4 linked regions of the Homo sapiens genome follow. The main gene of each other region encodes a partner of the protein of the gene in region 3 in a complex. Each region holds a gene or a part of one and is shown on either strand. Other genes may lie near its edges.

Region 1 (7,026 bases), on a different chromosome or scaffold from region 3:
TATAGTCCCAGCTACTCAGAAGGCTGAGGCAGAAGGATTGCTTGAGCCCTGGAGTTTGAGGCTGCAGTGAACAGTGATCACGCGCGCCACTGCACTGCAGCCTCGGCAACAACAGGGTGCCTGTCTTTTTCTTTTTCCCCGAGACGGAGTTTCGCTCTTGCCACCCAGGCTGGAGTGCAATGGCGTGATCTTGGCTCACTGCAACCTCCGTCTCCCAGGTTCAAGTGAGTCTCCTGCCTCAGCCTCCCAAGTAGCTGGGATTACAGGCATGTGCCACCATGCCCGGCTATTTTTTGTATTTTTAGTAGAGACAGGGTTTCACCATGTTGGCCAGGCTGGTCTCGAACTCCTGACTTCAAGTGATTCACCCACCTTGGCCTCCCAAAGTGCTGGGATTACAGGCGTGAGCCACTGCACCCAGCCACCTGTCTCTTAAAAATTTTTATATACATATATATTTATATATATATATGTATGTACGTATATATATATACACACATATATACACACATGCTAGCTCATGCCTGTAATCCCAACACTTTCGGAGACTGAGGCAAGTGGATCACTTAAGTCCAGGAGTTTGAGACCAGTCTGTGCAACATGGCAAAACCCCACCTCCACTGAAAATACAGAAATTAGCCAGGTGTGGTGGCACGCACCTGTAGTCCCTGCTACTCAGGAGCTGAGGTGGGAGGATCGCTTGAGCCCAGAAGGCAGATGCTGCAGTGAGCTGAGACTGCACCACTACACTACAGCCTGGGCAACAGAGCGAGACCCTGTCCCAAAAATATACACACACACACATCCCCCACACACACACAGGCCGGACACGGTGGCTCACGCCTGTAGTCCCAACAGTTTAGGAGGCCAAGGCAGGAAGACTGCTTGAGCCCAAGAGTTCAAGACCACCCTGGGCAACAGAGAGACCCAGTCTCTAAAAACTAAATACACACACACACACACACACACACACACACACACACACACCTAGACACATACACAGAAAAGGTCTAGAAAATACGGAAAGGAGCACAAGAGACACATAGGACATGATAAAAGCCTAATGTATATCACACCATTGCACTCCAACTTGGGCAACAATAGCGAAACTCCATCTCAAAAAAAAAAAAAATGCCTAATGTACACAAAAATGGAGGCCCTCTGAGTGAAGATGAGTGGAAAATAGGAATATTTATAGAGAGAAGAGCCAAAACTTCCAAAATTGATTAGGAACCAGGCCACCAATACAACAAATACCAAGTTTTGCTAATGCCTGAAGCAAAGAAAATGTTACAAGCCACCAGAGGCAGCTTCAAATCCTGGTGTGAGGAATGAGTAGATGGTGAGATCTTGCTGTGTGTCTGATTAGTCCTTTCTCTGCCTTGCCTGTTTGAGCTTCAGCAGAATTGAAAATGGCTGGCAGTAAGGCTGGGAAGGACTCCAGAAAGGCCAACAAAGGCAGCTTCCCACTCACAAGAGAGCCAATTTGCAGTTCCTGGTGGGCCGTATTCACTGACACCTGAAATCTAGGACAATCAGTCCTGGACGTGTGGGCGCGACTGCCGCTGTGAATAGCACAGCCATCCTGGAGTACCTCACCGCAGAGGTACTTGAACTGGCAAGAAATGCGTCAAAAGACTTCACAGTAAAGCATACTACCCCTCATTACTTGCAACTTGCCATTCGTGGAGATAAAGAATTGGGCTCTCTCTTCAAGTCTACAATTGCTGGTAAAGGTGTCATTCCACACATCCACAAATCTCTAATTGGGAAGAAAGGACAACAGCAGACTGTCTAAAGGCTGCCTGGATTCCTTATTATCTCAGGACCCTAAACACTCTACCAGCTGTCCAGTGTGGCTGATTCCAGTGAACTATATCTCTGTGAAAAACACAATTCTGCCTTTCTGTAATTCTACTTGAGCAAGTTGGAAGTTTAATTAGCTTTCCAACCAACAAATTTCTACATTCAAGTCTTAACCATATTTGTTACTGTGGCTTCAAAGAAGCTATTGATTCTGAAGTAGTGGGTTTTGATTGAGTTGACTGTTTTCAAAAAACTGTTTGGATTTTAATTGTGATGGAGAGTTATAGTAACAAACATTTGGTTTTGCACAAACATTATTTCCACTCTGGTGGATAAACTCAGTAAAAGTCATATCCTCTCCAAAAAATAAAAATAAAAAGCAACCAGAGGGGAAAATAAAAAGAAGTATTACTTCAAATGGGACAACAATAACACCAAAAGCTGACTTGTCAAGAAAAAGGAAGCGAGCTAAAAAAACAATGAATTCGCTGCTACAAAATGGTGCAAGGAAATGACCACGATCCCAGTATTCTATACCCAGCAAAATCATCCTTCAAAACTGAAGGCAAATTGGGCACAGTGGCTCACACCTGTAATCCCAGCAGTTTGGGAGGCTGAGGCAGGCAGCTGCTTGAGCCAATGAGTTTGACCCCAGCCTGGCAAACATGGTGAAACATCACATTTAAAAAAAAAAAGGCCAGGCATGGTGGCTCACGCCTGTAATCCCAGCACTTTGGGAGGCTGACGAGGGCAGATCACCAGGTCAACAGATAGAGACCATCCTGGCCAACATGGTGAAACACCTTCTCTACTAAAAATACAAAAATTAGCTGGGCGTGGTGGCACGTGCTTGTAGTTCCAGCTACTCGGGCGGCTGAGGCAGGAGAATTGCTTGAACCCGGGAGGCGGTGGTTGCAGTGAGCCAAGATCACATCACTGCACTCCAGACCGGCGACAGAGCGAGACTCCATCTTAAAAAACAAAACAAAACAAAACAAAACAAAAACTAAAGGCAAAATAGAAAATTTTCAGGCAAACAAAAATGACAATTCATTATCCACAGATATGAACTCAAAGAAATACCGTAGAAAGTTCTTCAGGGAAAAGAAATATAGGCTGGGCGCAGTGGCTCACATCTGTAATCCCAGCACTTTGGAGGCTGAAGCAGGCAGATCACTTGAGGTCAGGAGCTTGAGACCAGCCTGGCCAACATGGTGAAACCCAGTCTCTACTAAAAATACAACAATTAGCCGGATGTGGTGGCATATGCCTATAGTCCCAGCTACTCAGAAGGCTGAGGCAAGAAAATCGCTCAAACATGGGAGATGGAGGTTGCAGTGCGCCAAGATCGTGCCACTGCACTTCAGCCTGGGCAACAGAGCGAGACTCTGTCTCAAAAAAGAAAAAAAGAAAAAAAAAAAACAAGAAATATAATCCCCGGCAGAAACATGAAACAACAATAAAGAATGAAGAGCAACAAAAATGGTAACTAAGAGGATAAATCTAAATAAACATTAACTGTACAAAATAATTATGATACTGCAAAAGTATATCTAAAATTAAAGTACATAAACTTGTAAGATGCAGCTAAAAGCGTGTAGTGGCTCACGCCTGGATCCCATTGTTTTGGGAGGCTAAGGGGGGAGGATCACCTGAGGCCAGGAGTTGAAGACCAGCTGGGGCAATACAGCAAGACGCTGTCTCTATTTTTAAAAATAAATATAAATTAAACTGAAATATATAAAACAATGACACAAAAGGTAGGAGGGAGTTAAATCCAGTTCAAGTATCTAAGGACTTGACCCTGGGAGACACAATGAGACTGTGCCTGGAAAAAAAAAAATATATATATATATATATATATATCTCAATCAAACAAAAAAAAAGCAAAAAAAAAAAAGTAGAAATTAATGCAATAGAAAACAAATGTAAGTAGAAAAAAATGTAAAGCCGAAAGTTGGTCCCTTAAAAGAACTTACAAAATTGACAAACCCCCAACAAGACTGATTAAGAGATAATATATGAATTACTGATATCAAGAATTATTAAAAGGGAACATCACTACAGATCTTGCAGATAATAAGGATTACAAACCACTTTAAACTTACAAATTGGAAAGTCTGGGTGGCCTGAACAAATCTCTAGCGGGGAAAAATGCTTTATCTAAATAGACACATGAAGAAATATTCAAAATCCTACATCTACCTATAAAATTAATTCTAAAATTTTTCCTTCTCACAAGGAAAACCCTGTACCAGCTGGTTTTGCCAAAGAATTATTTCAAACATTTAAGGAAGAAAACACAAATTTCGTAGGAACTCTTCTAGGGAGTAGAAAAAGAAGGAATACATTCCACCTTGTTTTAAGAAACCAGCATAACCTTGATACCAAATCCCAACAAGGGTACTGAAGGAAACTGAAATTATAAGTCAATCTTTCTCGTGAATATAAATGCAATAATCCTAAACAAAATACTACCAAATATAATCCAGTAAAAGGAGAATACATCAAGATCAGGTTGGAATTATTCTACAATTGTAAATTTTTTTTAAAAGGGAGGTGCTCTTTCTCAGGAGCTCCTGAAGTTGCTTCCCCAGGCTACAAACAATATGCAATTAAAAAAAAAAAAAAAAGCAAGGCGCAGTGGCGTGCGTCTATAATTCCAACTACTTGAGAGGCTGAGGTGGGAAGATCACTTTAGCCCAGGAGTTCAAGGCTACAGCGAGCTATGATGGTGCCACTGCACTCCGGGCTGGGTAATGGAGCAAGACCCCATCTCAAAAATAAACAAACAAAAACAGTTAAATTCCCACATAACAGAAAAATCACATGACTGTCTCAAAAGATGCAGAAAATCCATGTTAAGAAATTTAATACCTGCTCATGGTTTTTAAAAAACTCTTGGCAAACTAAGAAGAGGAGAATTTTTACATTTTGATAAAGAATATCTACAGGGCCAGGTGTGGTGGCTCACAGTGGTAATCCCAGCACTTTGGGAGACCAAGGTGAGAGGATCGCTTGACACCAGGAGTTGGAGACTAGTCTGGGCAACCGAGTGAGTACCCTTTTCTTAAATTACCAGATCTCAAGACAGACTATATCTATGGGAATTTAGACATTGTGCTATTTGTGCAAAGATGACAAAAAGATCAAAGGAGCAGAAGAGAGTCCAGAAACAGACCCACACACTTACAGTCACTGGACTGAGATGACACTGCATGTAGTACACTGGGGAAAGAATAGTCTTTTAAGAAATTATGCAAGGTCAACTAGATATCCATTTAAAAAAAGAAAGAGAGACTCTTGGCCCCATCGCATACCATAAACAAAGTCAATTTCAGATGGAAGATTAAAAAATAGTTTTTAGAAGACAATGTAGAATATCTCATGAACTTGACCAAGCAAATTTCTTAAACAGGACACAAAGAGCATTAAACATTACTGAAAAGATGGATCAACTGGGCTACATTAAAAATTTTACACTTCTATGTATCAAAAGATACAACTGAGAGAGTGAAAAGGCAAACACAAGAGTCTAAAAACAATCTGTCATGCACATATGTACTCAGAATATAGAGAAAACTCCTTCAAATCAGTAAAAAACAAAACAGACAACCCAATCAACAGATGGGCAAAAGATAACCGTTTCACAAAAGACATCCAGGTGGCCAGTGAACACAGGTAGAGATGCTTTACCTCTGCATGTTCCTGGCCATCAGGGAGCAGCAAATTCAGACCATACTGAGCCACCTACCAGCTAACAGCCACCAGAACAGCTAAAATGTAAAGACCCAACAATACCAAGTGCTGAAGAGCATAGGAGCAACTGACTTCTCATACATTGCTGGGGTAGTACAAACTGTCACAACCACCACTTTTGGCACTCTCTACTGAGGCTGAACAAATGCACACACCATCATTTGCATTCCACTTCTTTGTAGAAATCCAACAGAAGTGTACACATATCCTCCGGCCTGGGCAACATGGTAAAACCCCACCTCTACAAAAAATACAAAAATTAGCGGAGGGTGGTGATGCGTGCCTGTATTCCCAGCTACTTGGGAGGCTGAGGCAGGAGAATCGCTTCAACCTGGGAGGTGGAGGCTACAGTGAGCCGAGATCATGCCACTGCACTCCAGCCTGGGCAACAGAGTGAGACCCTATCTCAAAAAAAAAAAAGTTTATAGACATCTGCACCAAAAAACAAACAATATTAGGGGAGCACGTGTAAAAACTGGAAACAACCCCAAATGTCTGTGAGCAGTAGAAAGAATAAGTTCTGTCTGTTCGTGCACGGGATGACCAGAGAGCAGGTGAGAATGAGCAAGCTGCATCTCACAAACATGATGCTGACGACAGAATGAAGAAGCAAAACATACAGATTATTTTACTTCACTTAAACAAAGTCAAGAACAGGCAAAAGTAATCAATGGTGAAAGGTCAAGACCTTGGTTAGCTCTGGGGGACAACTACTGGGAATAGTTAGGAGGGGACTTCTAGGAAGCCTGATAATGTTCCATTTCTTGATCTGGGTGGTGGTATGCAAGTGTGTTAACTTTGTGAAAAGTCCACTGAGATGTATACTTACGATTTGTGAATTTTTCTGCTGTATGCTATAGTTATGTATATTTTTAAGTACACTCTAACTTGCCTCCACAATGTGCCAGGAGCACAAATGCACTTCCTGGACTCATTATCTGGTCACACTACCAGCCACCAAAGATGAACCAGATGCCAGGAAAGGGAAGGGTCCAAAACAAGTTTACTTAATAGTTTCCATTTTTGAAAGGCTGGAATCAGGTGCTCAGGTGGTAACGTGAACCGTTGGCATCATCATGTTATCCACTGAACTAGGCATTCCCAGGCTGCTACACTGAGCAGTGCCAGAAACAAATCACTGAGCAACCATGTCACCAGTGTGTGTGACAACCTCCACAGCCTGCGACTAACTGTACAAAACTCCTGTCACTTCCCTGACATGTCTTGTGTGCCCATTCTTTCCAAAACCTACCTTATTAAGTATATTAGTATTTGATATACACTTCAATACGTGTACCTTAAATTACAAATACAATAAAATCCTGGTAAAACATAAATTGGCTACTTCTTTTAAAATTGTAGTAATAAAATTCAACATAAATAAACTTGGTAATTTATAAGATTGAAATAAGAAAAATCTTAATGATTCTTTAATCCAACAAAAAAGGAACATAGAGCGCT
Region 2 (7,944 bases), on a different chromosome or scaffold from region 3:
ACAAAGGATGTAAAGATGAAATAAATTAGCATTCTGTTCTTGAGGACTGTAAGAAACTTGGAGCCAGAAAGGAACATAAGGCACCTATAAAAATTATAGTACAATTGTTTTATGTTGTAGGAAAAAGGAAAATATGTTTGCTTATCACCTATGATGTGTCAGGCAAGGTGCTCTGTCATCTTGCATATGACATCTTGTCAGATCCTTGCAACAACACTGTGAGGTAGATTTTTGTAGAAACAGGCAAAAATCACAGTGAGGATGTATTATTAGGAAATATGGGTGCAAAGTCATGCAGTGCATGCAGTGTGGGCATATGAAGAAGAGTCGAAAATAAGTTCAGAAAGGTAAGTTGGGGGCAAGGATGTGAAGGCTTTTGGACACCAGTCAAGAAAGTTTGATGAGTTTTGTTCCTTGGTAAAGGGAGACTCATTTAAGTGTTTAGAGTCAGGAGTGATCAGGGTTGTGCTTTAGAGAGCTGCAGCTGGAAGCCTGTAAAGACCAGACAGGCAAATGCTGTGGATTTGATGAGTAGGGTGAGCCTCTTCTGGTACCTGCATCCAAAGAAAGGGAGGTGTCCTCAAGCCTGCTCAGATTTGGGGATGGTGTAACTAAAGAGTCAGCTTGTTCTGTTACTGCAAAGGGCAGAAGTGAGAGTGTAAATTGTGGACAATCAATGCTTCAGACACAGAAAGACAAAATAGGTTTGGAATCAAATAGACCTTGGTTTCAATCCCAGTTCTGGGGGAATCTGGAGCAATTTACTTGTATAACCCTGGAGAGTGATTCCTCATGTCAAAATGATGCTAATAACACTTACCTTACAGGATGTTTGTGAGGATTAAATGAGACACAAGACAGATGTCTTTGGGGAGAAAGTCAGTAAAGCAGGATCCAGATGGATATGAGAAAGATCCCTTTTTTTTTTTTTTTGAGATGGAGTTTTGCTCTTGTTGCCCAGGCTGGAGTGCAATGGTGCGATCTCGGCTCACCGCAACCTCAGCCTCCCAGGTTCAAGCAATTCTCCCACCTCAGCCTCCCGAGTAGCTGGGATTACAGGCATGCGCCATCACGCCTGGCGAATTTTTTTTCTATTTTTAGTAGAGACGGGGTTTCTCCATGTTGGTCAGGCTGGTCTCGAACTCCTGACCTCAGGTGATCCGCCCACCTCGGCCTCCCAAAGTGCTGGGATTACAAGCGTGAGCCACCACGCCCAACCGAGAAAGATCTTTAATGGTGGGCTGCTTGCTTATTTTGTGTGTTACTGGTTGCCAGATAAGTTCAAGCAGGGGTTGGAAGCTACCTGTAAGGAATGCTGAAGAAGGGTTTCTTGCATTTTAATAGTGGTTGCATCAAATGACTTTTAGGATCCATTTCAAGTTCTAATTGAGCAGGTGTTCTCCTGCTCTGCAGTGTCTCTTGCTCCCTACCCCGCAATAGTGATACTCTTTGGCAAAAAGTTACCAAAGGTAAGGTTAGTCATAGGAATAACTAGGCAGAAAATATCTAGACCTACAGAATAAATTAGCGTTGAAATCATAGGAATCATAAATGATCATTTGCACTAAGCCAGCCAGGAGCCGGGATAGTGAGGAGTAAGTTCTGGCTACCTGCTCATCAGGCATCCTGTCTTGCTTCTGCTGCACTATCCTGATTTTTTTGGAGTTTCCCCAAGACACCCAGAGGCCAGTGATTTCAGTATGTTTATTTAAGGGTTACACTGTCTTCAAAAAATGAAGTATCATGGTGAAGCCTAAATGTAGAGCAGATAAAAGAGCTGTAACTCTGGTTAAAGGGAGGTAGAAGGAGGCTGAAATCTCAACCATTGGTTCCTCCCTCACCCACTCTGTAACCTCTAGCTTGAATGTTACTGCTCCAGACCTGGCCCGTTTTCAGCCTTCCCTTTGAGTCTTTTGTTTTCTGGATTCTGGATGGCAGCTGTTATCACTCCAGCTGCAGAAAGGATGGGAGGCGACTTCCTGTTTTTCTATCCTGCCATCTCTGTGGGGGTGGGACATTCCCTCCCCCATCTCCTGTGGCTGGCTGTAGTTTTGGAAAAATGTGAGCCTGGCTGCAGCCGTCCTGACTAGGGCTGGAGGAATGGCTGGTAGCCACCCAGCCTCCGTTTGAAGGCATCTGGGAGCAAGGCAGGCAACAGACACTGATGGACAAGTTGTGTCCCTGACTGTGGGACAGGGAAGGGTCAGTAGTTAATTAAGAGACAGGTGAAGTAGTTGGTCCAGAAGTGATCTGAGGAAGTTAAGGGTGTTGAACGAACGGTGGGTAGGGGTGTGGGAGAACAGAAGGGCTCTGGCCCTTCTGGCATAAAAAGAGAGAAAGAGAGAGGAAAAAAAGAACAAGAAGAAACAGTTAAAGTTTTTGTCTGAGAGATTATTTGGGGATAGACTGCATTTAAAGAATGGAAGAGAATAGAAATGATACAATGATCTATTTTCTCATGCCCTATATTTTTATTGAGCCTTTTCCTTGAATTGGGTATAAGGAATATAAAGAGGTCCTATAAGCAAGATGCTTGCTCTTCAGAGTTTGGGAAGGCAGGAAAGGCATTTAACTGGACATGTATAACCACATGTTTACACATCTGTACAATCTCAATCCTTATAACAACCTTTAACATAGGTATTGTCAGCCCTATTTTAAAGAGGAGGTAACTGAGATTCGGGATGGATGTTTTAGTGACTTGCCCAAAGTTACCCAATAGCTAAGTGGCAGAGCCAGGCCAAGAACCTTGAGTCCTTTTCTCTGTCCACTGTAACACACAGCTAAGTCTTGGCAGAGGACAAGGACTTTAATTTAATTAGGCTTTGAGAGAAGGGTGGGACTTAACCCACAGAGGAGTGGGGATTTCGGTTAGGCTGAAAGGTGAGAACGAAGCAGGGATCTGTGAGTAGACCTGTTTGACTACAGAGAGGGTTTCCTGGGAGCGAAGTGGGAGATAAGCTGGGAAAGGTAAGAAGCAGGATAAGAGAGAGTTTTAAATGGCTAGATAAGAATTGCAGGGAAAGGGGGACCTGATTTAGAGGGGAAGATGTTGATGACAAAACCAAACATTTTAGAAAACTCATCGGTAGTGAGTGGTACAGAGAAATAATTAGAACTGGGGGAAACTGGAGTCAGAAATTCAAGTCAGGAGTTTGGAATACTGCAGGTCTGACAAGCAACAAGATGGTAATTATATAAAGTAGGTCTGTGAGAGCAGTGGCCCAAGCCTGTGGATTTCTTGTAGCATTCTATTGTTTGAAAAAGTATAAATTATGGACACTCAATACTTGAGATATAGAAAGAAAATCAATGGCTTTGGAGTCAAATAGACCTCGGTTTCAATCCAAGTTCTAGCTGATTTGGAGAAATTTACTTACATAACTTTGCTGAGCCTTTGATTCCTTACGTTAAAATAGGGCTAGTAACACTCAATTTACAGGATGATTGAGAAGATTAAACAAGACACAATGCTGGATTCTGTGCATCCCTCTACAATTTTTGGCAGATCGGTAAATGTATGGCATGTCATCAATCAAAAAACAATGAGGCCTGGTGTGGTGGCTCACGCCTGTAATCCCAGCAGTTTGGGAGGCCGAAGAGGGTGGATCACCTGAGGTCAGGATTTCGAGACCAGTCTGGCCAATATGGCGGAAACCCCGTCTCTACTGAAAATACAAAAATCAGCCGGGTGTGGTGGTGGGCGCCTGTAGTCTCAGCTACTCGGAGGCTGAGGCAGTAGAATCACTTGAACCCAGGAGAAGGAGGTTGCAGTGAGCCAGATCATGCCACTGCACTCCAGCCTGGGTGGCAGAGTGACCTGTTTAAAAAAAGAAGAAAAAAAAGAGAAAGTTATTAATTCACTATATTTTTAGAAGATGGTGGGTTATATGCTACCTATATCTCATACAAATAAAGCTGCTTTTCACCATTCAGGTCTGCCTGTAAGCAGCATCTGCCTTGAAAGAACCATTTTCTGAGAATCTTTTTCTTCTGTCAGCCAAGGGGATTATACCGCATGATATCTGTCAAGGATAAACGTTAGTTAATTCTTAATTGAGAGCTCAGCCACTACAATTGGTTCCATTCTACAGTAATTATTCTCATGTGGTTTGTGGAACTCAATTGTGAGGTCCCTCCTTCCTCCACCCTTTTCAGTGTGTGCATTGAAACAGCAGCCTTAAGGTCTTTAAACGGGGAAATACATTTTTCTTGCTTCAGAGATTCAATTTTACTTGCCCGAGAAGCTTGTGTGGTGTGATTTTCATCGCTAAAAGCAACAGCAGCCACATGGCTGACAACACCACCACTTAACAATTCAAAGCTCGGTCACCGTTTTCAGGAGTCTCTTCCAAATCTTTCTGAAGTGCTTTTGAAGTTCTACATTCCCCGTCTAAGGGAACACCCAGCAGTCCCAGGATAAAAGGGCAGAAGGGTGAGCTGACGTTTTCCTTTATTTGCATGGCTTAAAGCTAGCCATTTTCTACACCACGCGCCGCCGGGCTTGTACATGCCCGTGTGCCTGTGACACCGAGGCAATTGTTTCTCCTTAAAAAGGGGGTTCGCGTGGGTTAGTTTCGTTTCTGATCTGGAATCTCAGTAACTACAACAAGAAAAGTTTAAAACTCGACCCGCCAGGTTCTTCCCCATCGGATTATCTCCGTTCCTTAGAGATAGCAGGAAGGGCAGCATTTTCTTCCATCCACCCACTTCCAGCCCTAGTCTGGCTCAGCGAGGAATGCATAAAATTAGTGGACTCCTCTGAGTGACGTTCCCCGGCTCCAATCAGCGGGCGCGCAGGCGCCCCCGGCCCCGCCCCACTGCTGACTCTCTTTGGCTGATTCCTGCAGGGAGGGAGGAGAGAAGGGCGGCAGTGGGAGGGGGAGGTACCTGGAACTGGGAGTGATGTCAGCTCCCAGCTCGGTGCCTGCCCGGATTCCTGACATGGTGTAGTGCAGGCAGGGTGGGGAAAGGACGGGGAAGGACTCGTGTGCTGCGAGCTGGCGGCCGGGCCGGAGTGCTGGGGCTTTGAACTCCGAGAGGAGGTGGACCAGAACTTTTGGAACTAGTGCCGGCGGCTCTCCACCCCCCAGGTAAGGGCGTTTTGCTCCACTCCCAGACGGGAGGGAAGTGGCACCGTTGTGTGGCTGCAGCTGGCTGTTGCAGCTGCTCCTCCTCTTCCCCGGGTCGATTTCCTTGTGCAACTCACTCCTGTTTCCCAATGGGAACGGGCACTTTTTGGGGGTGGTGGGGGTGGAGGGGTAGGGCTTAACTCCTGGGGCTTGGACCGAGCTTGTACGTGAAGAATACTCCAGGATTGGACGTTTAGGTCTTGTCTGTATCCTTAGACCCCCACACCCTAGGCTCCCGGTAATACCTGAGAACCCCAACCAGAGGGGCGTGTGTGTCTCTCTGTCTGTGTGTATTGAGGCATTTAAAAATGCCACAAAAAATTATGGATCATCGACTCAAAAATTATGCTCGTTGAAAAGAAAAAAAAAGTTTTGTATTTTTTTGTCTCCTTGTGGCCTATTATATATTAAAAGAATATCAATGTTAGTCTTATATATCAATGTAAAATATCCTTTTGTGTAATCCAGTCAGGATGTGAGAAATTCACTTGGGGTGTTTATTAATTATGAGCTTGCGGGAAAACTCGTCTCTTGGGGGCACACTTCTAAAACTGCAACTAGTATTCACTCATTTTAACCGAGAAATCCCTTCAGCTGCCAGCTTTATATCTGGAGAGGTTAGGATGGCTGCTGAGAATCTTCAGATCTGTTTCCTGTGGCTGCTTGAGGGGCGAGCTGGTAGTTGTGTTTTCAGGGATCTTTTTTAGAGAAGGGAGTTTTAACAGGGAAACGCGGTGGAAGGCGTGGCATATAAACTCTTAATTATAGGGACGTGAAGTTTTCAACATGTGGGACCAAAACAAATCCTTGCTTTCAGTAAGAACTGCGGAGAGCAATAGAAAAAGAACTTGATTTCAAAGTCCAAGTTTGGTATTTTGAGAAAGCAATTGCGGGAGGAAAAAGATACTTTTAAGAAGTGAAAGAATAGAATTCTGATTTTTGTTTATTTCCTATTTCAAACCCTGTCTTTTTCCTATGTGGAGATTTTGTGTGCCCAGGTCACTAACTGGGTGTGATTGACTTTCTCGAGGGGGCGGGGAAATTGACTCCATACACCGATTCAGGACCCTCTCATCAGTGCTTTAAGGCTCTCTTTTGGAGCAGGAAGGAAAAAAAAAAAAAAAAAAAAAAAGTAAGCGCTGAGACTCCTGAGTCAAGTTTCCCCTTTCCTTCACCGAAGTTCCTCCTCAGCAGTGAGGATCCTACTGTTGCCAGGTCTGGAGGAAATGGGAGTGGACTTCATTGTGAGTCAAAATCCGTATCCCAGGCCCCTGAAGGGAAAAGGCATTTCCAGGAGATGGAGAAAGAAAGAAGCCACAACAGTAGGTCTAGTAAACCCAAGTCAGGAAAAGGGATAGAGGACTATAGATGGGGTTCTCTATCTTTCTAGCCAAATGATCATTAGGTTTCAGAACTAGAAAGAAGTGTTTGGTTGTGCTGTTGTTTATGACATACCTGGGTCTGTATTGTTGTTAGTTCCTGAAAAAATTAAATAGAGTGGATAAAATAGCAGGCTTTTTGAGAAAGGAAAATTCGCTTTATTGGAAAGACAACATTTTAATTTTGGTTTGTATTTTGGCTTAAGACACAGAAATTGCAAATGGCTCTGCAATAATGGTGAACAAGTCTTTTCTATTTATGTTCTATGGGGAGTACATAAAACATACTGTATTTTCCAGTGTACTTTTTCAGTAGGATAGAGCTGTGGAGTGGAGTTCCTGTGGGCTAATGTGAACTCACGGTAGTGTTCCTTGGCTGATAGTGTTCCAACTGCATTTGTAATACCAAAAGATGGGGCTGCAAAAGCCAGACGGTTCAGTAAAGAAGAGTATCTTTAGGATGTTATCCTTATGTGCCAAATTCAGATTTACACTTTCTTTCCAAGAAACTAGTCCTAGTTTAGGGACTTGAATATACCAAAACTCTAAATTTGATTCACAGTTTGAATAATAGCAGTAATTTTACATACTTAATTTAAACCAATATTTCTCTTTCTCAGTCCATGTTTATGAGGCAGATATGGTGTAGGAAAACACGGAATACTTAAAAGATGTTTGAGTTATTGAGAAAGGTAGGATCAGTTTTTGGTTAAATTCCTGTGACCAACAACTGTCATATTTCCAAGAGCAACTTTAAAAATTAAGGTCGGCCAGGCTTGGTGGCTCACACCTGTAATCCAAGCACTTTAGGAGGCTGAGGCACGCAGATCACCTGAGGTCAGGAGTTGGAGACCAGCCTGGCTAACATGGTGAAACCCCATTTCTACTAAAAATACAAAAAAATTGCCGGGTGTGGTGGTGGGCACCTGTAATCTCAGCTACTTGGGAGGCTGAGGCAGGAGAATCGCTTGAACCCAGGAGGCGGAGGTTGCAGTGAGCTGAGATCTCGTTATTGCACTCCAGCCTGGGCGACTAGAGCAAAACTCCATCTCAAAAATAAATAAATAAAATAAAAATTAAGGTCATCTGGCCTTAATGGATAAATGTTGATTTGAAATCCAGGACACACTGAAGTTCCAGATCAATAGTGCCTAATTTCAAGGGCATCACTGACATTTTTTTGGGAACAAGTTCACCGAGGGACAGTTAATTAACTGTTTATGTAGTCTTTTTGTAGCTCCCTGTTCCACCGTGAGATAAATCAGAACAAGGTCATTTTTCCCCTCAGTTACTGACTAGCTGACTTCTTTTAAAACCTTTCCTATTCATAAAATATTTGTATAAGTAAATTTAGATTATGTTGATAATTTGTTACATTAAAATTAACTTTTCGTTTATATCCCAAACCAGCATAATTTTCAAACTGTTAACTG
Region 3 (7,958 bases):
CACAGGTACTCCACCTAGAAAATGTACAAAGCCACTGTCACTCTAAGCCATCCACAGCACCATAGCACTGCCTCCCTGCTAAGGGTTGAAAATCAGGATATAAAGCCATAACGTTAACTACTCCTTTAAAAATATTTAAAAGGAGACCGGGTGTGGTGGCTCATGCCTGTAATCCCAGTACTTTGGGAGGCCAAGGCAGGTGGATCACCTGAGGTTAAGAGTTTGAGACCAGCCTGACCAACATGGCAAAATCCTGTCACTACTAAAAATAGAAAAATTAGCCAGGTGTGGTGGCAGGCGCCTGTAATCCCAGCTACTCGGGAGGCTGAGGCAGGAAAATGGCTTGAACCAAGGAGGCAGAAGTTGTAGTGAGCCGAGGTAACTTCTCCAATGAACTCGAGAGTCAACCCTTGCTTATAGATCTCAAAATGGAGCTTTGAAGAAAATAGGGAAAACCAGAGATTGGTTAATCACTTTGGCTTATTTTTTCCTCTCTTGCATACACAACAAACACACATGGTAAATAAAACGTTTCTGGAAAGGTTGCTAACGAGTTTCAGCTTGGTCACAGTTATTGAACGGAGGAGTAAGCAAGCTCTCAGTCCAATTTCCCAAGTATCTTTTCCTCCCCTTTTCAAACAGGGATCCAGGCGACACTCGTGGCAGACGATCTCAACACCAAAAGAACAGCAGCTGCCAGCTGCATAAAACAGATTGAGGCCTGCAAATTGACTGAAATGATGACTACTCTTAACCAGACATCTCATTTTTCCACTTCTGACAGGCTGAGATCTGCAAACCTCTGGGTCTCAAGAGATGAAGGCTACATTAGCCAACTAAGACGACAAACTCAACTCTTCCTTGTCATTAAATAATTTGCCAGTTATAAATGGTTTGGTAACTTTACAGAATTTAAGTACATGTAATGTTTAAATTTCCCCATTAAATGTAAGAGGCAAAGAAAATCCTTTTAAATAACTAAGCAGAGGATATGAAAGGGGAGCCAAGAATAGACAGAACTGTTACTTTTCAAAGAACCTTCGCTCTTTATTCAAACAAATATTTACACAATTGAAGGCAACGGCAAGAGAGATATAGCCATTCTGTTAAAATAGTGGGCAACTCTAACGGTTTATTTATCCCAAATCCGACAGTTCTGTTGCTAACCTACCAGGAACCAAGAATTCAAGTGTTCACAGGGCAAAAGTTTAACCTTCTGAAACTGTGGACCTCATTTAGATCTCTCCCAGCCGAATTCAAACGTTAGAATCCCAGAGACATATCTCGAACGCCCAAATTAAACCAAACTAGGAAGCTTAAAATTACACGTCCAATACTTGAAAACCTACATCTGTAACTTACACGTTCATATTACGAAGGGAAATGTGGCTGACAAATATTTACACTAAAAAGACTCCACATTTTTATGCCTCGTCTAGTTACACTCCCAGCTGTGCCTGGCTATGACTAGTTGTGCATTCTAGAGCTCTTTAGAGCTACTTCAGAGTTGCAGGATAAAGATTTCTAGGGAAGAGGGCAGGGCCAGGCGCCCGGAGGATTTCCAGCCACGGGTAGTTTACCGAGAGAAAAAGCTGCGGGCGTCGCTCCCTCTTTTACATAAGAAAGGTAAGTGAGGAACCGCGAAGCAGTTTGACTTCTCAAGCTCTTTCAAACAGGAAACCCCAACCCTGGGAGGGACAGCCTGTCAGCCTTTTAATTTCCTGGTGGTGGCGGGAGTTAGCCAGGTCCTCGGCGCTTTAATAAGTGATGACTGCTAGGGCTAAGTTATTAAGCGAACCAGCAAACGATTCAGCTGCGCCTCCGCCGCGCAGGGAGCTGGAGAAACAGAGGGTTAAAATACTCCCCAAGCCTTCCAGCTGCTATCTCTAGGGGTGCCGAGACGGCCACACTGTAAACTTTCAGTGGGGGGTCAAAGGCCAAATCGAAATCAGCCGCTTTTGGCGGTTAAAGCTCGTAGGTTCACTCTTGAAAGAAAGTGGAACTAGAAGCGCAGCTAGCCAAATATTTGCGGGGAGGGAGTCTTCTCTGAATCCCGCGCCCTACACCATCCAGCAGCGGACCTTCTCTTTCTCAGGGAGCTATCCCAAGGATCCCCATCCCTCTCTCCATGTGCATTCCAGAGTTGCTGGAAAAAGTTGCCCCCAGTTCCCCCACATTCTGCCTGTTTTCTACAATCACTCTGGAAGCATCTTCCCTACCAGACACTCCCTCCCCGGGATCCCCTCAACCGGAGATCTACCCAGCCCCCCGAGAGTCATGCACAACGGGGTTCGCCACCCCCACCCACCCAGCTGCGCAGCCTGGGCACTGCCGACCCCAGCCCGGGCTTTTGTCCCTACAGCCTGTAAAGAAGCAAAGAAACTCTGTGTCCCCGGAGCCCACTCACCGTCTCATCTTTCCTCCAAACCGCCGCTCTACGCTGGCGCCGCCGCCCTAGCGCCTAGCCTTTGCCCCCGCCCACCCTGTCTCCCTCCGTGAGCCCGCCGGCCCCTCCTGACTCGCGGTGAGCAGTCAGCGCGCCCCTCCTCGGCCCGGGCAGCCACTGCCTCCTCTCCGCCCCCAACCCTCCGCAGCGCAACCGGCGGCAACCAACTCGGCCGCGGGGGAGGCAGCGTCCCCGGGACGCACTCCTGGCACACGGAGTCGGCACCACCCCCTCCTCCCGGGCGACCACCGCCGCCTCCTCACCTGGCCATTGGTGCAGCCCGTTCCCGGCGGCGAGAGAAGGCAGGCGCGCTCCTTGCGCCACGCCACACCGTCGGGCCCCCGTCGGGTCCCCCTCGGGCCGCAATGGTGGGCTCCGCGCGGCTGGGTCCGGCACTCTTGACCCCCTTTGTAACCACCGCGGCGGGCACCCAGGGAGTTCGAGCAACGAAGTTGGTGACCTGCCCCGCTCCCAGGCAGTTTGCTGTTGGGGCTTTCACGGCTGCTGGAAGGGCATGGCTGTTTGCCCCATCACTGGGCGCCAGCTTCTCAAAGCTACGTTCGCAGCAACGCAGTAGGGACTTTCGTGGCAGGCTTTTTTTAAGAGCTGAAAGAAGGGCGGGAGGGTTTACGTCCTAGGGTGATGATTTCCTCACCAGACAGCGAAGTATCTATTGGGAAACTCCAGGTGACCGCACCTCCTTCCGACAGTTCGCCCCGGGGCAAGTTTACCAGCTGCGTCAGAAAGCAGGTTTGCAAAATCCTTGGAGAACGGCCTGAGCTAAGGACTGGGGTCAGGAGGGTTTTAAACTCATTCTGATTTTCTTGCAATCATATCTCTTGAAAGTTTTTATATTTTCCCCAATATTTTTCTGAGTTGCTATATCCAATGAAAACAATGCTGATGTAGAGGTCCACCAGCCAATGCTTTATTGGAAGTCAACGAATGAGACCGAGGGTGGCCCATAATCAATCTCGGCACGCGGGAATGTGAACCTCTTCCAAGGTCTGGGCGAGTCCCTAGAGTTACGCAGATGAAGGACATTGGCCCTCGAGAATCTCACACCAGCAAAGAAGAGCACAACGAAGCGCAAACTACTTATGATCATTGTGGCTTTGGGCAAGTTGTTGTAGCTCCCAGCAACAATTTCTTCACCTGGAGTGCAGCAATAAATGATACTGGTGCTGCAGGGCAGCTAATAAGCTTCTGAATAATATATGCAAAGTACTTGGCACCATGAGCAGAACTCAGTATACCGTCACTGAAGAAATAGCTTATTTAATGATTACACTTTTCATATGTGCAAGTAAAAGTTTGACTTTTAGGGAGAGCCTCACCTACGGAATGTCTTTTTTAAATTTCTTTTTTAATTATACTTTAAGTTCTGGGATACATGTGCAGAACGTGCAGGTTTGTTACACAGGTATACATGTGCCATGGTGGTTTGCAGCACCCATCAACCCTTCATCTAGGTTTTAAGCTCCGCATGCATTAGTTATTTGTCCTAATGCTCTCCCTCCCCTTGTCCCCCACCCCCCAACAGGCCTCAGGGTGTGATGTTCCCCTCCCTGGGTCCATATGTTCTCATTGTTCAACTCCCACTTATGATGAGAACATGCAGTGTTTGGTTTTCTGTTCCTGTGTTAGTTTGCTGAGAATGATGGTTTCCAGCATCATCCACGTCCCTGCAAAGGACATGAATTCATTCTTTTTTATGGCTGCATGGTATTCCATGGTGTATATGTGCCACATTTTCTTCATCCAGTCTATCATTGATGGGCACTTGGGTTGGTTCCAAGTCTTTGTTATTGTGAACAGTGCTGCAATAAACATACGTTTGTATGTGTCTTTATAGTAGAATGATTTATAATTCTTTGGGTATATACCCAGTAATGGGATTGCTGGGTCAAATGGTATTTCTAGTTCTAGATCCCTGAGGAATCGCCACACTGTCTTCCACAATGGTTGAACTAACTTATACTCCCACCAACAGTGTAAAAGCGTTCCCATTTCTCCACATTCTCTGCAGCGTCTGTTATTTCCTGACTTTTTAATGATTGCCATTCTAACTGGCGTGAGATGGTATCTCGTTGTGGTTTTGATTTGCATTTCTGTAATGACTAGTGATGATGAGCTTTTTTTCATATGTTTGTTAGGAATGCCGGGTTTTTTAGAGGAATTCTTTTCCCTGTCCTGAGTTTTTGCCCTGCAGAAGCATACATACACTGATCAATCCAACAGTTAAACAGTTAAGTGCTCCAGCAATGTTCTTTTCTCACCCACGTCATCTCTTTCCTCCTCTTTTTTGGATCATCCCCATAAACATACAATCATTTTATTTCCATTACCTTGGAATTTTTTTTTCTTTTCTTTTCTTTTTTTTTTTTTTGAGACAGGGCCTCACTTTGTCACCCAGGTTGGAGTGCAATGGCACAGTCATAGCTCACTGCAGCCTTAACCTCCTGGGCTCAAGTGATCCTCCCACTTCAGCCTCCTGAATAGCTGGGACCACAGGTGCAGACCACCATGCCCAGCTAATATTGAATTTTTTGCAGAGATGGGGTTTCACCACATTGCCCAGACTGTTCTTGAACTCCTGGGCTCAAGCGATCTGTCTGCCTCCGCCACCCTAAGTGTTGGGATGACAGGTGTGAGCCACTGTGCCCAGCCTCCTACTTCCCCTTTATCACTCACTTAGCCCCTGCCACAGTGGCCTCGTAGACTAGATTCCTAGGTAAATCCGTTCTATCTCAGGGCCTTTGTTCTAATTGCCCTCTCTGCCTATAATTCCCTCCTCCCAAGTATCTGCATGGTTCACTCCCTCACTTCCTTCAAGACCCTGTTCAATGTCACCGTGTTGCTCAGGCCTGCTCTGACCACTCTACTTAAAAGTTTAAAATGTGTTTTCCATACTACTTAAATTTACTTTTTGACAAAGTCACCACATTCTACTATATTGTAAAATGTACTTTTTAAATTATGTTTATTGTCTGTCTCTCCTCACTAGAATGTAAGGCAGGCAGGCAGAGAGTTTTGCCTGTTCTCTCCAGTGCTATATCCCTAGTGTGCCTACAAGGATACCGGACATGTAAATGGTGCTCAAGAATAAATGATGGCTTTGACCCAAAGCACTGTGTTGCAAACATTTCCTTGCCTCGAGCAATGCCAGAAATACACTTGACTACACAGACATCTTAGAGACAACCTTTCTCCCTTCAGGTCTAAGGAGAATGTGCACCAACACAGCACATTTAGAATGGCCATAATTAGATTGCCAATATTTATGTCTAAGAAAAAAATAGCTAAATTTATTGAGAGCAATAATTACTATTGTATACGTATCCGGTATTCTTCCAAATATAGGACAATATTAGTTGATGCGGTGAGAGTTACTGTTTGTTACTACTCCCATTTTATAAGTAAAAAAGGAATCACAGAGAAGTCAGTTGTCACTCAGGTAATAAGTTGGTAGAGGCAGAATTTGAGCACTTGTTCTTGAGTTCATTGTCTTTAATGCTACCTTCTACCTCTTTTCTAAGTATGAATGTTACTAGGGGATATTTCTGTATAATGAATAATTCCAAATTACTAGACAAAAAGTAATCCTCACTGGCCTCCCTTCACTGCCTTGTTTTATCTGCTAGCATCTCTATCTCTTAGGATAGCCAAGCTCCTAGAAGGCAAAGGGAGTCATTTTATTCATATTTGTATGAATCATACTCCAAGACTTATATATGGAAGGGACTCAAAAAGTAGTCATTGAATGTGACTTTTTCAAGTGACTAAACCCAGCAAAGTTTCCCATTCCTGATGAGTTAGAGTGGTTTTCAATAGCTTTCATAAGGCCATAGCAGCCTGAAGATAGACGAGACCACCCTGAAGGTGCAAGTCTTAAATTAGATAAATTCAGTCCAGGCTCAATGGCTCATGCCTGTAATCCCAACACCTTGGGAGCCGAGGTAGCAGGATTGCTTGAGATTAGAAGTTCCAGAGCAGCCTGGCCAACATGGCAAAACCCGTCTCTACTAAAAATACAAAAATATTAGCCGGGCATGGTGGTGCACCATCTGTAGTCCCAGCTACTCAGGAGGCTGAGGTGGGAGAATCACCTGAGAATTCGAGGCTGGGTGATCCATGATCGCACCATTGCACTCCAGCCTGGGTGGCAGAGTGAGACCTTGTCGCCAAAAAAAAAAAAAAAAAAAAAAAAGACAAATGCAGACCTCAACATCTATAGAAAGCACTCAATAAAGTGCAACTGTTATTGTTATTATTATATTACCAGACTTTCTTTTAGTAATGGTGATGGAAAGAAAGAAGAAAGAAAGGAAAGAAAAGAAGGAAGGAAGCAAAGAAGGGAGGAAGGAAGGAAGGAAAAAGAGGGAAGCGCGGGAGGGGGAGAGAGAGAAAGAAAGAAAGGAAGGAAGGAAGGAAGAAAGAGAGAGTCTTTCTACCTTTTCTATTTCCTGGGTTCTTTATAATAAAGTTTTCTGTTTAATCACAGACCAGAGTCCTGCCTGCGCTCTGCCATTCCTTATCACTAGAGATATTGTGTTGTAAACTAAACAGCAGACCTTTCTTGTTTGCCTCTCCAGGATCTGTAGTGGTTACAGTCCCTGATCTTACTTTCCTGTGTCCTTCACCCTCTCAGGTGGGGAACCTTAAAGTGTTGCACAGTGTTGAGGCTAAAGCAACTCTATCTTGGATGCTAATCTGCCATGCTGACTTTTTTTTTTCTTTTTACCCTAATTCCATGGAAGATTACCTGTTGACTTCTGATTAACCCGAGTTCTGGGAATTACTCTAAGATTTGTACTTTATCTACTGATACCTTAAATCCTGCCCCTGGGTCAAAACAACCTTGACCATAAATCCTGCCCATGGGCAGATTCACAGAGCATTCTTGCCTCTCCCCAAGGGGTCGACTTCAATTCTCCTACACATTCTTTTCCTTTAGTTTATGTGTCTTGACTCTGGGAGTGACAGCGTGGAGATGCACCATCTTTTTTCACAGCCACTGGGGACATGGCTTCTGTTCATAAGTCTCTATTAAATGTTTCTTTCTGAGAAACTGGACTTGTCAGCCTCTTTCTTTGGCTTTTCAGCTTCTGTGGTCTTTGGGAGTAGGTTTGTACATACCTGCTCACTTTGAAACACATACAGTGATATTATGAATTATTTATGTTATTCCATTTGTAATTATTTTTGCTATTGTTCTCTTTTATTAGAAAAGATCGGTTGGATTTGATTAACTTTTTATGTCCTGAATCTGTATATTTGCTCCTTTCTCTGCAATGATAGCCTAACAAATCTTTGTAGCTATTAACTCATTTCAATCTTACTGCAGTTTAACTCATGGAACAATTGTTTGTGCTGAAGTTCGCTTTAATATTATGATGATTTAATGAATCAAGAAGTTTCTACTTGCAAAGTGCAGTGGAAAAATCATTGACTGTGAAGTAAGGCAGAACTGGGTTTTAAGCCCTGATTCAGCCCCTTTGCTAGCTAATAT
Region 4 (5,235 bases), on a different chromosome or scaffold from region 3:
TGCCTTGCCAGCACCCGTGTCCTGAGCTCCTGCAGCCCAGTGGCTGCTGAAGTTGTGATCCCTCACTCACCCTGCTAGCTTTGCCCTTGACTCGTCTTCTCTGAACCTCAGCCTCGTGCATTGCCTGGAACCTTCTTCTAGCATAAATGAAGGTTTTTCCTCCTACACACATTCCTTCCTCGGTTATTTCATTCAGAGAATATTTATGAAATGCCTACTGTGTGCAAGTCATCCATCCTTGAAAAGGCCACTTCTCAGTGAGGGAGAGATGTAGTGGATTCTGTGAGACATACCTGCTGGAGTTGAAGCAGTAAATAGCATGTCCTTCCCCTCCCCGATCTTAAGGTGTGTTTTCTAGAAAAGTTCCCTAATGGAATTCATGAGTTTGGGGGTCTCAGTCACCCGCTTGCCTGTAGGATTCCATTTGATGATTCTGGATTTTTGCTGTTTGTTATTGCCCTTAGAGGGGCTCTGAGTATCTACTTGTGGGTGGCCATTTCCTGACATCTGCATGTACCTCGTGGAATTCAGCCAGCTTCATGTTGCAAATCAGAAAGCTGACCCCAAGACTGCAAATCAATGAAGGTATTGGCATTGTTAAGGACGTAGCGTAGACAACAGCAGTCATAAATAATTAGGCAGGAACTTAACCCAAATCTAGTTCTTTGACCACCTCTACCACCAGAACCCAGCAGACACTCACATCTCCTGATAAGAGTTGCTGGACTCGATGTTTTTGTTTTGCATTTTCTCCTCTCCTTCCCCACTTACTCAGAGAATTTAAAGTCTGTAGAGTCAGCACAGCCCCATCAGTCCAGGAACTTCCCACCACCAGCCCTTGACTGTCCCATTAACTGACATGGTCAGATTTCCAGCTCCCCCTACTCCCTGCTGTGAAACAATCCCTCTCCCTGTGAGAGGAAACTGTGGAGCGTTTCTTATCGAAGGTTAAATGGACTCTGCTCATAAACCTCTTACTGAGATGCTTCCTGATAGCCAGGCTGGCCAGAGAGGGGTGCAGGGGTTAGATAGTAAGTGGTGGTCGTTTGTGGTCAGTTACCTCAATTCTGTTCATTGCAGTGCCCGTAAACCATGTAGAAAGCTCCCAGCACTGAAAGGCAGGAGTGTTAGCATCTCGCTTTATCCACCATAACGTAAAGAACTGCGGTGTGATAACAGCCTTCACGGGGCCACGGTGGAACCAAGACAGCAGGCGAGGCCATGCCTAAACAAGTGGTCTGGCACGGGCACTGGCCAGCTGCTCTCTCCAAGCAGGTGGCCCAGATCCCACCCACGTGGACTTTCTCATCAGGTGCAGCGCCTGCCACTCTCAGCCACTGGGTGTGTCACTCTCCTCTTCATCTCAGCATTCTCCATCACTTCCCCTCCAGAAAAACGGATGGAAGGAAGCCCTCTGTGACACTGCTTCTGAGAAGAAGCATTTCCGGGACCGATATCATCTGTCTGGTCTCTGTGAACAGCAAGGAATCTTCTTGACCGTTCTTGGGCACTGGAGGCTGGCTAGGAGTTCAGTAATAAACGTGGCCTTCGTGCTGTAGGGCAGAGTGGATGCAGTTTGTAGCTTTCAGAGTGTCTCATTGAGTCTAGATCATTGAACCAACACTTAACCAAATGTCCCACTCCCATCACACTAGGACTTGTCATTCCATGCCCCTCTCCTAGTGGTCATGGTTTCATATGGGCATACAACTGCTACTGAAGTTATATAGCCTTGAAAACTCAGTGCAGGTTGCCCTTAATTTTCCCCAAACCCCTCCATCGGCAAGTCTAGTTGCCCTTTAGCACCTAAAGATCTGCACCCCAAACCAATGTCACCATAAAGAGGGCACGAAGAAGAGTGGGTGTGATCCCAACGGGGTTTTGTAACTGAAGAAGCCCAGTGTGAGCTTCTCATCTTTTCATATACCTCTAACCCCCGGTACTCATTGAATCATTGATGAGGTATCTCAATTGAGATTTGCAAGGACTTTGATACCATTTGAAATGGAAAAATTTTGAACGGGCTTTAACATGTTTAAGAAATATGGATGGGGCCGGCCACAGTGGCTCACGCCTGTAATCCCAGAACTCTGGAAGGCTGAGGCAGGCGGATCACCTGAGATCAGGAGTTCGAGGCCAGCCTGGCCAAGATGGCAAAAACCCCGACTCTACTAAAAATACAAAATTAGCCAGGCGTGGTGGCGTACGCCTGTAATCCCAGCTACTCAGGAGGCAGGAGAATCGCTTGAGCCTGGGAGGCAGAGGCTGCGGTGAGCCGAGATCGTGTCACTGCACTCCAGCCTGGGTGACAGAGACTCCATTTAAAAAAAAAAAAAAAAAATATATATATATATATATATATATATATATGGATGGGAATCACCAAATTCATCTCAGCTCTAACCTTTTAACCTTTGTCCTTGCACTTTACAATCTAAAGATCTACCTGTGGCTCTCAGACTTCCTCACACTTGGGTTTTAGAAATAACTTGTAAAGCAGACTGGACCCAAGGCCGCCTTCAGTGTCAAGAAGGGCATTGTGACTTGCCCCTCAATTTCTGTCCATTGAAGTCTGGTTTTCCATGAGGAACTTGCGGGCTCACCCACCCCCAGAGTGAGAGAAGAGGAAGGCGAAGTCATCACAGACACGGTCTTAGCCACCTGCTGAACTAATCCCTCCGCTATTGAGGGTCAGGGTTGTGAGGCAACCATCATGTGTCACCCCAAAATATAAATGTTTCTGAGCCGCCCATCCACTGGCATTTGGATTTGCTGCCAGAGTCCTGTTCCTCCCAGAACCATCCCGCCCTCCTGTTGACCATGTTACTTGAGTGTAGGCCCGGTGTCAAGACCCTCAGAGTCTTTGAGGAAAGAGCCAAGCAGAGAAGACCGCTGCGTGGAGTGTGACACCACATGGCATTTCTCAAGCCCAGCGGACCCTGTGTCAGCAAATACCAGTAATTTAACATCTGCTCCTGGCCTCCTCTTCACCTGCCTGGGTTCGGAACTGAGGAGGAAGGATGAGAAGAGACTGCAATGCAGCAGGCACCCTCTGCAGAGTGAGGCCGCCCGTCCATCACTGCCAGCCCTGGGCTGCTCAGGAGGGGACGTGAACCACTCAAAGGAATGTCTTAAAGAGGATCTGGAGTTTCCCCCATGCAAATTAGGGAAGAATTAGGCAAGAAAAGACATACATTACAGGGAAATCCTTCTGAACAAAATGGCTGTCTTCACCTACTCTTCTTGCAAGAAAAGACATACATTACAGGGAAATCCTTCTGAACAAAATGGCTATCTTCACCTACTCTTCAGCAAAAACCGTCTCCAGACTTTTTAGTGTCAAAAATGTAACCAACTGTCTCCTGATTTTTTCCAATGTGTTTGGCAAGTGCTGTGGCCCTGTTGTAGGTACTTCTCCTGACTCTTGGGGGAGAAGTGGTTTTAGGGATTGATTTGGGGGAGCGGGTTTTTGTCCCATCCCACCTCCTCTCTTCTTTCTCTGCTTGTCGATATTGTCTGTGTGATTCAGAGAATTGGGGCAGTTACATTGTGTCTGTTGTTGAGATTATTAAAAGATTAAAACGTAGTTGTAGAAATGAAAAATTAAACAGCTGTGTTTTAAAAATGCAAACCAATATCTTGTTAATAAAGGAATTCAAGCTATGGGGCAGCCACACTCCCCTCCTCCCAGGCTGGCATAGGTGGCCCTGGGCTGGCGGCTTAGGAAGCATGGAGCACACTTAGGGTAGTGCCTGCCTGGGCAAGAGACACCTGCCGAGCAAAAGGAACGAGAATCTGGGGCTCAGAGCCTCGCAGTTGTGCCAGGATTTTCCTATACATGTTCAGGACCTCTGGGTAGAGGTTTCACAGTTTGTGACCCCATAACCACCCTCACCCGACGTGGGTTCTAGCTCAGTGTGCCTAATACTGCATGGTAACCTGGGCTTGACCCTGAAGCCCCTGCCTGGCAGGCCACAGGACCTCTCCTGCCCACTTGGTGCTATCTCTTCCAGTGACCACCCAGCACGGGTGAGCACTGGCCAGCCTGGAGCCTGCAATCCAGGTGGAACAGACTGTCCTCCATGTCAGTTCCTTCTGGCTTCAGGCCCTCAATTATTTCCCTTTGAGCTTTTTTAGACCCTAGATCTCCTAGGCCCAGGCTCTCTCTTGACCCCAGAGAAGCCACTGTCAGGAAAGGAAGTGAACCCTACTGAAGCCAGAGAATTCACCCCGGCCAAAGCAGGCCCTCTGGGTCCAGCCCCTCATTCCACACCACGCCAGTATTGCATCCATCTACTGCAGCTACACATCCTGAGGGCAGCACCACCCACTCTGGCCTGCTGGCCCATCGCAGGACTAGCCCAGGCACCTGCCGGGCATTGCAGGATATCCAGTGGGGCCTGTGACTGCTCCCTGATGCGTCAGAAGAGAAGTGTTGCACTTTAGTGGAGGAGCTGAGGAGCACCTGCCCCCTTGTAGCTTGAGTTCCTTTTGGTAACAGTAGCAGCCTCCATGGTGGTGTCTGGGATGCACGTGCACCCGCTGCCTTCAGCTGTATGTGTGTGTTCCTGCTGGAGTTGTGTTACTGACAGGATAATGACATTACAAAGAAATTGTGTTATATTCAACTTTGCCTTGATAATTATTGTAAACACTTTGTTCATTTTTTCTTTTTTATTCACAAACTAAATCCACCAGGAAATTATAAAGTTATTTAAAAACCGTGCTGTGTCCTTCTTTGAGTGTCACCCAGCTGATCATCCAGGCAAGGTGTGTCCCCAAATGCTAGAAAAGATGGACAAGGTCTGCAGTGCCCAAGAGGCCAACTCCAATGGCAGGCAGCCCGAGGGCCAGGGGTCCCAGGATTTACGGTGGGTGTGGGAGTCATCACAGCCCTGACGGGCATGAGCCTCCTTTCCCTTCCCGCCTGATCTCCGGGTTTGCAGCTTTTAAAGTCAATTCCCGGTTCCCTTTTTCCTTCTTTCTACCCTCAGCCCCGGGCCAGGTTATCCGTATCAGGTCTCACTGTTCCAGAGCTTAGAGTAGGTGCCCAGCGCTGAGGGATGGTGCTGCTGTTGTACCAAGGTAGAAGAGCCAGAAGGGCGGCCACCAAGGGAGGGCTTTGCCCAGGACTGGGACTCAAGCTTCAGCAGGGCGCGTTCTGATGCACTGACTCTGGGGCGTGCAGGCTGGGTCAACAGAAAGTGTGTGTGCCAAGAGTAAAAGGAGCCGAGA

What was found.
Region 1: PHLDB2 (region 3) and PPFIA1 share a complex: the UniProt entries of both Homo sapiens proteins name them as parts of the cortical microtubule stabilization complex.
Region 2: PHLDB2 (region 3) and PPFIBP1 share a complex: the UniProt entries of both Homo sapiens proteins name them as parts of the cortical microtubule stabilization complex.
Region 4: PHLDB2 (region 3) and ERC1 share a complex: the UniProt entries of both Homo sapiens proteins name them as parts of the cortical microtubule stabilization complex.

The regions. Positions count from the first base shown.
Region 1 is NC_000011.10:70,273,684-70,280,709, reverse strand, and holds part of PPFIA1 (liprin-alpha-1), read right to left. Parts: intron 2,096-7,026; exon of another isoform or gene 1,307-2,095; intron 1-1,306. UniProt on the Homo sapiens protein: May regulate the disassembly of focal adhesions. May localize receptor-like tyrosine phosphatases type 2A at specific sites on the plasma membrane, possibly regulating their interaction with the extracellular environment and their association with substrates.
Region 2 is NC_000012.12:27,519,273-27,527,216, forward strand, and holds the start of PPFIBP1 (liprin-beta-1), read left to right. Parts: upstream 1-4,933; 5' UTR 4,934-5,093; intron 5,094-7,944. UniProt on the Homo sapiens protein: May regulate the disassembly of focal adhesions. Did not bind receptor-like tyrosine phosphatases type 2A.
Region 3 is NC_000003.12:111,854,328-111,862,285, reverse strand, and holds the start of PHLDB2 (pleckstrin homology-like domain family B member 2), read right to left. Parts: upstream 3,022-7,958; 5' UTR 2,710-3,021; intron 2,460-2,709; exon of another isoform or gene 2,408-2,459; intron 1,627-2,407; exon of another isoform or gene 1,470-1,626; intron 1-1,469. UniProt on the Homo sapiens protein: Seems to be involved in the assembly of the postsynaptic apparatus. May play a role in acetyl-choline receptor (AChR) aggregation in the postsynaptic membrane.
Region 4 is NC_000012.12:1,491,209-1,496,443, forward strand, and holds the end of ERC1 (ELKS/Rab6-interacting/CAST family member 1), read left to right. Parts: 3' UTR 1-4,723; downstream 4,724-5,235. UniProt on the Homo sapiens protein: Regulatory subunit of the IKK complex. Probably recruits IkappaBalpha/NFKBIA to the complex. May be involved in the organization of the cytomatrix at the nerve terminals active zone (CAZ) which regulates neurotransmitter release.